Regions from separate parts of the Homo sapiens genome. Here regions 2 and 3 are each linked to region 1. The links come from fine-mapping of genetic effects on gene expression. A gene starts in region 1. Each other region holds a variant in brackets. All regions are shown on one strand. Distances are from middle to middle.

Region 1 (2,765 bases):
GCTTGAAGTCAGATAGTGGAAGGTCTTGAAACCACAGACACCTGCTGTGGCTGATGAGATCTTTCAGACATTTGAGTAGAGGAGGGGGCTTGTCAGAGTTGGGCCTTGGGAAGACTGATCTGGAAGCAACGTGAAGGCTAGGAGGGAGGAGTGAGAAGGGAGCTGTCCCCGCTTCTCTGCTCCCTTAACACTTTCTATATCATAGAATGTGGCTGTGTGTCTCACCCTCTAGAGAGTGAGCCCCTGGAGGGGAGCTGAGTGTGCTGTCCACCTCTGGCTGCATGTGCCAGTGGGTGATATATTCACCTGTAAAGCACAGTACAGCTAGAGGTTAGGAGACAGGGGAACAGATGCTGGAGCTGCTGCTGCCTATGTTGATGCAAATAACAATACCGTTTGGGAATCAATCTAAAGTGTCTTTGCCTGCATCAGCTGAAGTTTCTTTTAGCATAATAACAACTGTCTGGAAATGTAGGATATGCAGATCTATATTCTAATCTTAGCTCTGTACTTGCTTTTGCAGGATTTGGAGTAGTTTATCAATACCCCAACTTGTTTCTTTTCTCTTTAAAATAAAGTAAAACTATTTTGTTTATAACTATTAACTTGTGAGGTGAGAGTTATCCAGCTTGTCATAGGGATCTGGCATAGAGACAGTACTCAACGTTATTATTATCAATCTATAATATTCTGGTTTTTTTGTTTCTTTGTTTGTTTGATATGGAGTCTCGCTCTGTTGCCCAGGCTGGAGTGCAGTAGTACCATCCTGGCTCACTGCAAGGTCCACCTCCCAAGTTCAAGCAATTCTCCTGCCTCAGCCTCCTGAGTAGCTGGGATTACAGGCGCGCACCACCACGACCGGCTAATTTTTTGTATTTTTAGTAGAGACGGGGTTTCACCATGTTAGCCAGGATGGTCTCAATCTCCTGACCTCGTGATCTGCCCACCTCGGCCTAACAAAGTGCTGGGATTACAGGGGTGAACCACTGAGCCCGGCCGATATTCTTATTTAATTTAGTCACCAAATCGCAGTTAGGACAGTGTTATTATTTTGCCCCGTTTCACAGATGAGGAAACAATCTCAGGGAAAAGAAGGGATTTACTCAAGCCATACAGTGGAGACGTCTGGATTTGAACCTACTGTGTTGGAATCTCAACTATGTGCAAACTCACAAAGGGAAATGAAGCCTTCGGAGGAAGGGCGGGACAAGGGTGACCACACAGGTGAGCGAGATGGGCTTCTAGAAGGACGCCCGCATATCTCTGAGGAACAGAGAAGGCACAGATCAAAAACACCTAGGCTCTTCACCCGTTGGCAGCCAGAGCCTGGGTCCATTGCCTAGGCAGTGGAGAAAAACCTGGTCCCCGCCCAGAAACAGCCTTCAGCGTCCTTAGCGACCAGGGCGGAACAGGCGCCGCCCGCGATGCGGGCCCTGTGATTGGCCGGATTCCTGGGCTCGGTCCCCACGCCCCGTCCCGTCCCCGGGTCTGAGAGTGTCAGCTTCCTGGGGAGAAGCACGGACCGCGCACCTCTGAGCTGCCAGGGTGGGGACGCTGCCCTAGCGGTAAGCCCCCCGACTCTGTTCTCTCCGGGCAATCAGGGCCGACACGCAGCTGCTGGGCAGGGAGGGGATTTGAGGATCACGAGTTCCGGGTCTGGAAGATTCCAGACAGGTGCAAAGAGGCTGCAGGTCCCCGGGATGAGGGGCTGCCCTAGCACAGGTCTTTAGTATTGGACTTTTGGGAAGAACCCTGGCCTAGACATCAGACCCAAGTACTGGAAACAGTCCCGTCCTTCATTCCTCTGTGACCCTTGTCAAATAACACACCCTCTCTGGGCCTTAGTTTTCCAATCTGTGAAGGAGCCTTTGGAGTAGAATGATTTCTAAAGGCCTTTCAGCCTCTGGGTGGTTCTAAAAGGGAGTGTTCAGCTGTGGCCAGATTTACTGAACTTCTGATTTTCCCTTGGCATCACTCTGTTTAAACACCTTGTGCAGGAGTTCAATTTCAGATTCATTGTATTGTTGTAGAAAGAGATCAGTGATAACAACAAAAGTCTGTCTGTCTTGTGTACAGTCTCCCTTCAGATGCATTATCTCCTTGGATTCACCCTCAAGTCCCTGAGAACAGACCTAGAATTACCCTGATCTCATAAATGGGGAAACTAAACATCAGAACTGAATATGGATTCTTCATATGTCCCACTAATGCCCTTGTTTCTGCTCTGACCTCACTGGAATTCCATCCTATGTCTTGTAGTACAGGAAGGTAGAGTCACCTAATGATTCAGTAGATCTGCTGTACAGACCTCTTAGGTGAGATTCCCAAGTCGGCTAATTACTGGTGATGTGATGTGATGTGAGTAAGTCATATAGCTACATTTTGCTTGTTTCCTCAACAGTAAAACAAAAATGATAATAGTAGTTAAAAATATCTTTCTCATGCCTTTGTTAGGAGTGTTAAGTGAGGTAATATAGGTGAAACACTTTGTCCTGCTATTATTATTGCTTGTTGTTATTGGCAAGGATGATGCAGTTCCCTAATGGAAAATCAAGAGGAACAATTTACTTATTTTCACCCCTAGGGATCTGAAGGGATTTTGAAAGGAATCATGTCTTCAGCCTGGAAGACTCCCCGTGGATCAGATGCAATGCCTGAGATCATGGTGAAAATCATTGGAAGTAAACACTTTCAATACCTCGTGGAGAAGCCAAAGATGTAAGTCCATATTTGAAAAATATCTATGTTGCTTGGATGATAATGAA
Region 2 (2,765 bases), 79 kb after region 1:
TCATTCTCTTTGTGTGTTTTTGTTTTGCTTTGAATTTCCAAAGCAACTTAATTCTAGACCACGAGGAAGTATAATTGCCATACAAAATCCAGGGACTCTTAATAATTATACCAAAGAGAAAAAAAAACCTGAAAATTTTAATTGAAAGATTCATCTGGTTGAATTATAAAGTTATTTATTAAAAATACGTTATGAGCCTAGAACTGTGTTAGAGGCTGAACCAAGAGGAAAACCAGAAAGGATGAGACATAGTCTCTGGCCTCAAGGAGCTTACCTTTAGGTAAGACACAGAGACTAACAATAGTTCAGTGCCAGTAAACAAACAAAATTAAAACACAGCATTAAGTATTACAAATGAAGTTACATGGCTGGGCATGGTGGCTCATGCCTGTAATCCCAGCACTTTGGGAGGCTGAGGTGGGAAGATCACTTGAGCCCAAGAGTTTGAGACAAATGAAGGCACAAATAAGAGTTCAAGAGTCAAAAGGAAAGTGAAGGTATGAAATGAGGCTGACCATCTAATGCGAGGTCCGGGACCAAGAGAGGACTCCAAGAAAGAGAGAACTTGAGCTGAGACTTCAGGTAGAATTTGGACAGTTGGACAGGTCATCCCGAGTTTGAAGTCATCTCCTGCAAAAGTTAGAAGGTGAGAATGAGTATGATGGAGAAGCGAGTACCAAGACAGGACTGCTGGAGGTGGATGTTGGACATACAGTAAAGTTGAGAACCTATTATGAACCCTAAGGGATAGGATGAGGCTTCATTCTTTACCCAGTATCCAAATGTACATGCGGAGGAAGGCATAATGAAAGCTGAGATGGATGACTTAGGGAAGGTACTGGAGAGAAGGAGATGAAAAGATTATTGAAATAACCCTGAGTCTGGGTATTCACAACAGGGCTATGAGAGTGGTGATGAGGTTACAAGCAATAACAAAACATTTTTTAAAAAAATGACATTGCTAAAGAAACAAATGCTTACTTGTGATGGATAATGGATCATAAACTTAGTTGCTAAGACACTCTCCAAAGACTGGGAGATTTCTCATGCTTCTGAACCGTTCTGAGGAGAAACGGAGTTTGTTGACTTTGGAGGCAGATTCCGACAGATTTGAAATGCCTTTCTCAT[G/T]GCCTCTTCACTATTTATGCCTGTTTTCTCTGTTTCCATGAAATTCATTAGTTCCTCAACAGCCAAGGAATGTGTCAGCCAGATCTGGGAAAATCTACAACTGTCTTTAATGAGGAAAGAGGATTAACTGAGGTCACTTTGGTGGTTTATTAACCCACAGTACTTAGCAGACCACCATAGCCCCATTCTAGATGCTGAGCAGATGATATCTGCTTTGCCCATGGATGAATCACTATTCTTTATTATGTGCAAAGAAATATGTAGGCCAGCATGTTCTCCATCCAGGATGAGGACAGGCCATCCATCATCACATCAGTGCTTCTGGGAACCTACTGTGCTTATTCTCTAATGGGGGTTGTCAACAAAATAGCCTTGAGGAGAAGGGATAAGGAATGATTATGAATAACTAGTCATGTTTTCTAAAGAAAAAAAAACAGTGGTTAAGATAAATGTCTGGGTGAATGTTGCATTTGGAATTTTCCCAGTGAAGTGAAAGCTAAATAGAAAGTGTTTTAGAGTTCAAGGAGGGAGAATGCAATGAGAGCCTGAAAGAAATTCCTCTGCATGAGCCCGGACTTTACATATACTACATCACTAAATTCTCACATCAACAACATGCTGAAGGGATTAGTATCCTTATTTACAGAGAAGAAAGCCAAGCTCAAAGTGATAAAATAATAGCCAGTAGGATGGTGAGCCATAATTCAAGCCCAGCTCTCCATGAATCCCCACTACACCCAGTCCCATGACATACTAGAAAGAGCACACGATTTTGCTTGATTTTTTTTTTTAATCAGAAGATTTAGATTCAAATCCAGACTCCACCCATTGTTGATCCGTAAAAGCCAGTCACTTACATTCTCTTCACCTGTTTCCTCATCTACAAAGTAAAACTGATAATAATAAAACATACTTCCCAGATTTGAGAACGGATCAAATGAGATAAAAGATTGAAAGTTCTTTATATACTGTACAATGAAGTTGATGTTGAAAATGTTCTTATGGTGGGGTGCAGTGGCTCACGCCTGTAATCCCAGCACTTTGGGAGGCCAAGGCAGGTGGATCACCTGAGGTCAGGAGTTCGAGACCAGCCTGGCCAACATGGTGAAACCCCGTTTCTACTAAAAATACAAAAATGAGCCGGCTGTGGTGGCAGGCACCTGTAGTCCCAGCTACTTGGGAGGCTGAGGCAGGAAAATCACTTGAACCCAGGAAGTGGAGGTTGCAGTGAACCGGGATCATGCCACTGCACTCCAGCCTGGGCAACAAGAGCAAAACTCCATCTCAAAAAAAAAAAAAAAAAAAGGATTCTTATTATTTTTTTATTTTGGTTCTGGTTAGAAAAGACAGGCTTTCCAACACTAAGATGGATTGTAAGGGCTATTTTATGCAGCTGTTCTGGGCATCCCCTAATGACAGAGTAAATTAGACAGATACAAATTTCATTCAGTGGACTTTTTGTTTGACTCTAGGCATCTTCTATCAATGGTAAAGCTTAGAAGATAGAAAATACTACTGTGATTCCTAGATGTATTTTTTAACATAACTTTTAATTTTTAATTAAAATATAAACTAAATGCTATCTATTTTAATAAGCAATTACATATATACTGTTTATATATTTTTAAAATAATGTT
Region 3 (2,765 bases), 69 kb before region 1:
ATGTAAGGCAGGGTTCTCCCCTATAGATTTCAGAGGGATCATAGCCCTACAGACACCATTATTTCAAACTTCTAGCCTCTAGAACAGTGAGACAATAAATTTCTGTTGTTTTAAGCCACCTGGTTTGTGGTACTCTGTTATGGCAGCCACAGGAAGCTAATACATACCTCTGTACAAACAATTGACTATCATATTAGAGGAGCTCGATGCATATGTATTGACTTAATTTCAACTCAACTGCCCTGGGAAGAATGCTCTTCTCTATTGCTGGAGATGTGCAAACACAAGTGGAAAAACTATTATATGGTTATGTTATTAGGGGATTTAAATCATTTCTAAGGACCCACCTAAACCAGATCCTATGAACTTGAGATCTGAAAACTTGAAGGAGAATTATTCTGGGGCTGTATTACTACATTTGGAGAGGTAACTCTGCCTAGTGTTTCTAGCACAGTTAGATTTCTATAAAGGTATCCAATCTTGTGATCTACAGCCATCAATAAGAAAAAGTATTTTTTAAATGCTGTTCAGGTATTTCTGAATGATTTACTCATCTTCAAACAGTGTTTGTACTCCATGTGCATTATGGCTTTAACTGCTTTCTTTATATCTTGCAATTTTTTAGACCTGGAAAGGAAAATGTATGTTTCAGGTATAAAATACCCTCTTGAACTAAGAAAGGAATGACTGAGACTCGCCAAGCCTTCAACAGATCCCCAAGTTCCTCACTTCCTCTTGGAACGTAAGGAGTATTAAATGACTATGAATGTGGAAACCACCAAAGCTGCAAATGAAGCAAACTGTATAAATTTAAAATTCCTGCTCTTGTGTATGTTCCTTGCTGGAAATAGAGAGCTCCTCCTTTTTATTGTTAAGGGAGTATCAGTTTATTTTTTCAGATTATTCCCACTATTGAATATTGACTTATCATTTATACAAAACTGTAAACAGGAGCCTAATACCTGAGACCAATTGTAGATTATGGAAATGTGCTCATCTTCTCTGTAGGGATTCATCTTCTTATGGGGAGAATTTCACAGAGATAAATATAATTGCTTTGCATAGGTTTGCAAGAAAGTTTAGTGTTCCTAGCTATCAGATGAGGAAAGGAGAGTAGAAAAGGACTAACATTCACTAAGAACCTACTAGGGACCAAGTTCTATGCATGGTACTAAATTTAATGATACTAACACACTGAAGCATAATTACCCTCTGTTTTGATAGAAGACAAAATAGAGGCCCAGAGTGGTGCCCAGACTTTCCCAGGGCTAGTGAAGGAGCAGAGCCAGGGTTCAAACCTGTCTGTCTGCCTGTAAAGTTTAATCTCTTTTCATTTACTGCATTGCCTTTCTGAAATGGAATAGGAATTTCTCAGATAGGGGTGAATGGAGTAATATTTATTAACGTCAACCTAAACCTTGTGCTCTTCCAAGTTATCTGATAGATTCGCTCCAAGGAGCCATTAAGAAAAGCCACTGGTCCAAGGGCTATAAATTAACACTTTCCTCATACACAGCTATAAGCAGCTCTTTAAAACCTGGGTATTATCGTCCTTAAAATAAGTATGTTTTCTGGGCATTTATGCTCTATCACTCTTGGTTTTTCCATCCTTGACTCCATTAAAAGAATTCTTCTTATTTCCTTTTCTCTTTTT[A/G]TGGCTTTGCAAGGGGCTAATTTGCAGGCAAAATTGCTAATTTTAAAGCTGCTTTCTGCTTTGTCAGCATGAGACTGACTGAGGAGTTATTAATAGAAGAATAGGATTCCCTTTTCATCCTTTTGCTCTTGACTGTTGCAGGAGGTGGGACAAAAATCCATTATTTAATAACATTTGTTCTTCTTGAAAGGTCATCATTCCAGCCTTTTAGTTTCCACTAAACTGCAGCAGTATCAGCAGCAATAGCAGCCACTTTCTCTTCCTGAAAGGCTTCTAGAATTCCTCCACGCTGCATGGCTGGTATAAGACTGTCTTTGAGATGCACCTTGGAAATGAGGTCCATGCAGGAAAATTCTCTCAGTTATTTCTATGCATTTTCCAAATAGTAATTTCTAGCCATAAGTATTTGTAGTTGCCCCGAGTCATCTGCATGTAGATTTCTGGAGCATAGGGTAAATGTGGTGTATATCAGTTAGGAATTGCATTCTGCGGCTAGTAGCAGAGAATAGAAATAGCAGTGGCCTAAAGAAGAGAGAAATTTATTTTTTACATTAAAAAAATCTTAAAATAGGCATTCAGGATTGGTATGTGACCTCACATTGTCATCACGGACCCAGCTTCCTTCTGCTTTTCCATTTACTGTCACAATCATGTGGTTTCCATTCTCACGGATGGCCCACAGTCTAAGACACAGGTGATTCTAAGCAGGAATCAGAACATGAGGGCGAAGGGCAAAAAGGGATAGATCAGCTGTCTGTCCTTCTCTTATGTGCTTTCCTAGAAGACTCCCCAACAATTTCTGTCTACATCTTCAAGCTGCAAGGGAGGCTTGGAAACATCATCTTTTTAGCTGGGCCCATTGCTGCCTCCACTAAATTAGAGTTTTCTTACTAGGAGAAAGGATAGGACAATATTAGAGTGGCAAATGGCATATCTGCCACATGGAACAAAGAGAATGACTAAATAAATTAAGCCAGTAAAACCTCTATTAAGCACCGGTTTTGTGCCTAGAAATAAAATAATAGAAAGTTTTGATTAATCCCTTTAAGGAACAAAAGCTTATTGCTCATGTTGTCTTCTTAGCCTGGAATGCGTTCCCCTTCCTTGCCCA

Alleles and levels. Alleles are on the strand shown, and positions count from the first base shown. SD is a standard deviation of normalised expression in the study named. Not every link is listed here.
With allele G in place of T in region 2, the expression in aorta of the gene that starts at base 1,485 in region 1 is lower (small effect, 0.39 SD a copy in GTEx).

The links.
Region 2: its variant is fine-mapped to the expression of C1orf87 in aorta (GTEx, PIP above 0.99).
Region 3: its variant is fine-mapped to the expression of C1orf87 in whole blood (INTERVAL, PIP above 0.99). The same link has a PIP of 0.9 or more in NK cells, blood mononuclear cells and platelets.

What each region holds. Positions count from the first base shown.
Region 1 is chr1:60,072,490-60,075,254 of GRCh38, reverse strand. It overlaps C1orf87 (chromosome 1 open reading frame 87), which reads left to right and starts at 1,485. Exons shown (of 12, transcript NM_152377.3): 1 at 1,485-1,565; 2 at 2,585-2,718. The coding sequence starts at 2,612.
Region 2 is chr1:59,993,425-59,996,189 of GRCh38, reverse strand. All of the region lies in intron 11 of C1orf87 (chromosome 1 open reading frame 87), which reads left to right. Among named protein-coding and RNA genes, the nearest start is that of CYP2J2, 68 kb to the right of the region's middle. The variant G/T (reference allele first, on the strand shown) is at 1,129.
Region 3 is chr1:60,141,013-60,143,777 of GRCh38, reverse strand. The region is part of intron 1 of LINC02778 (long intergenic non-protein coding RNA 2778); the gene reads right to left. Among named protein-coding and RNA genes, the nearest start is that of LINC02778, 28 kb to the right of the region's middle. The variant A/G (reference allele first, on the strand shown) is at 1,655.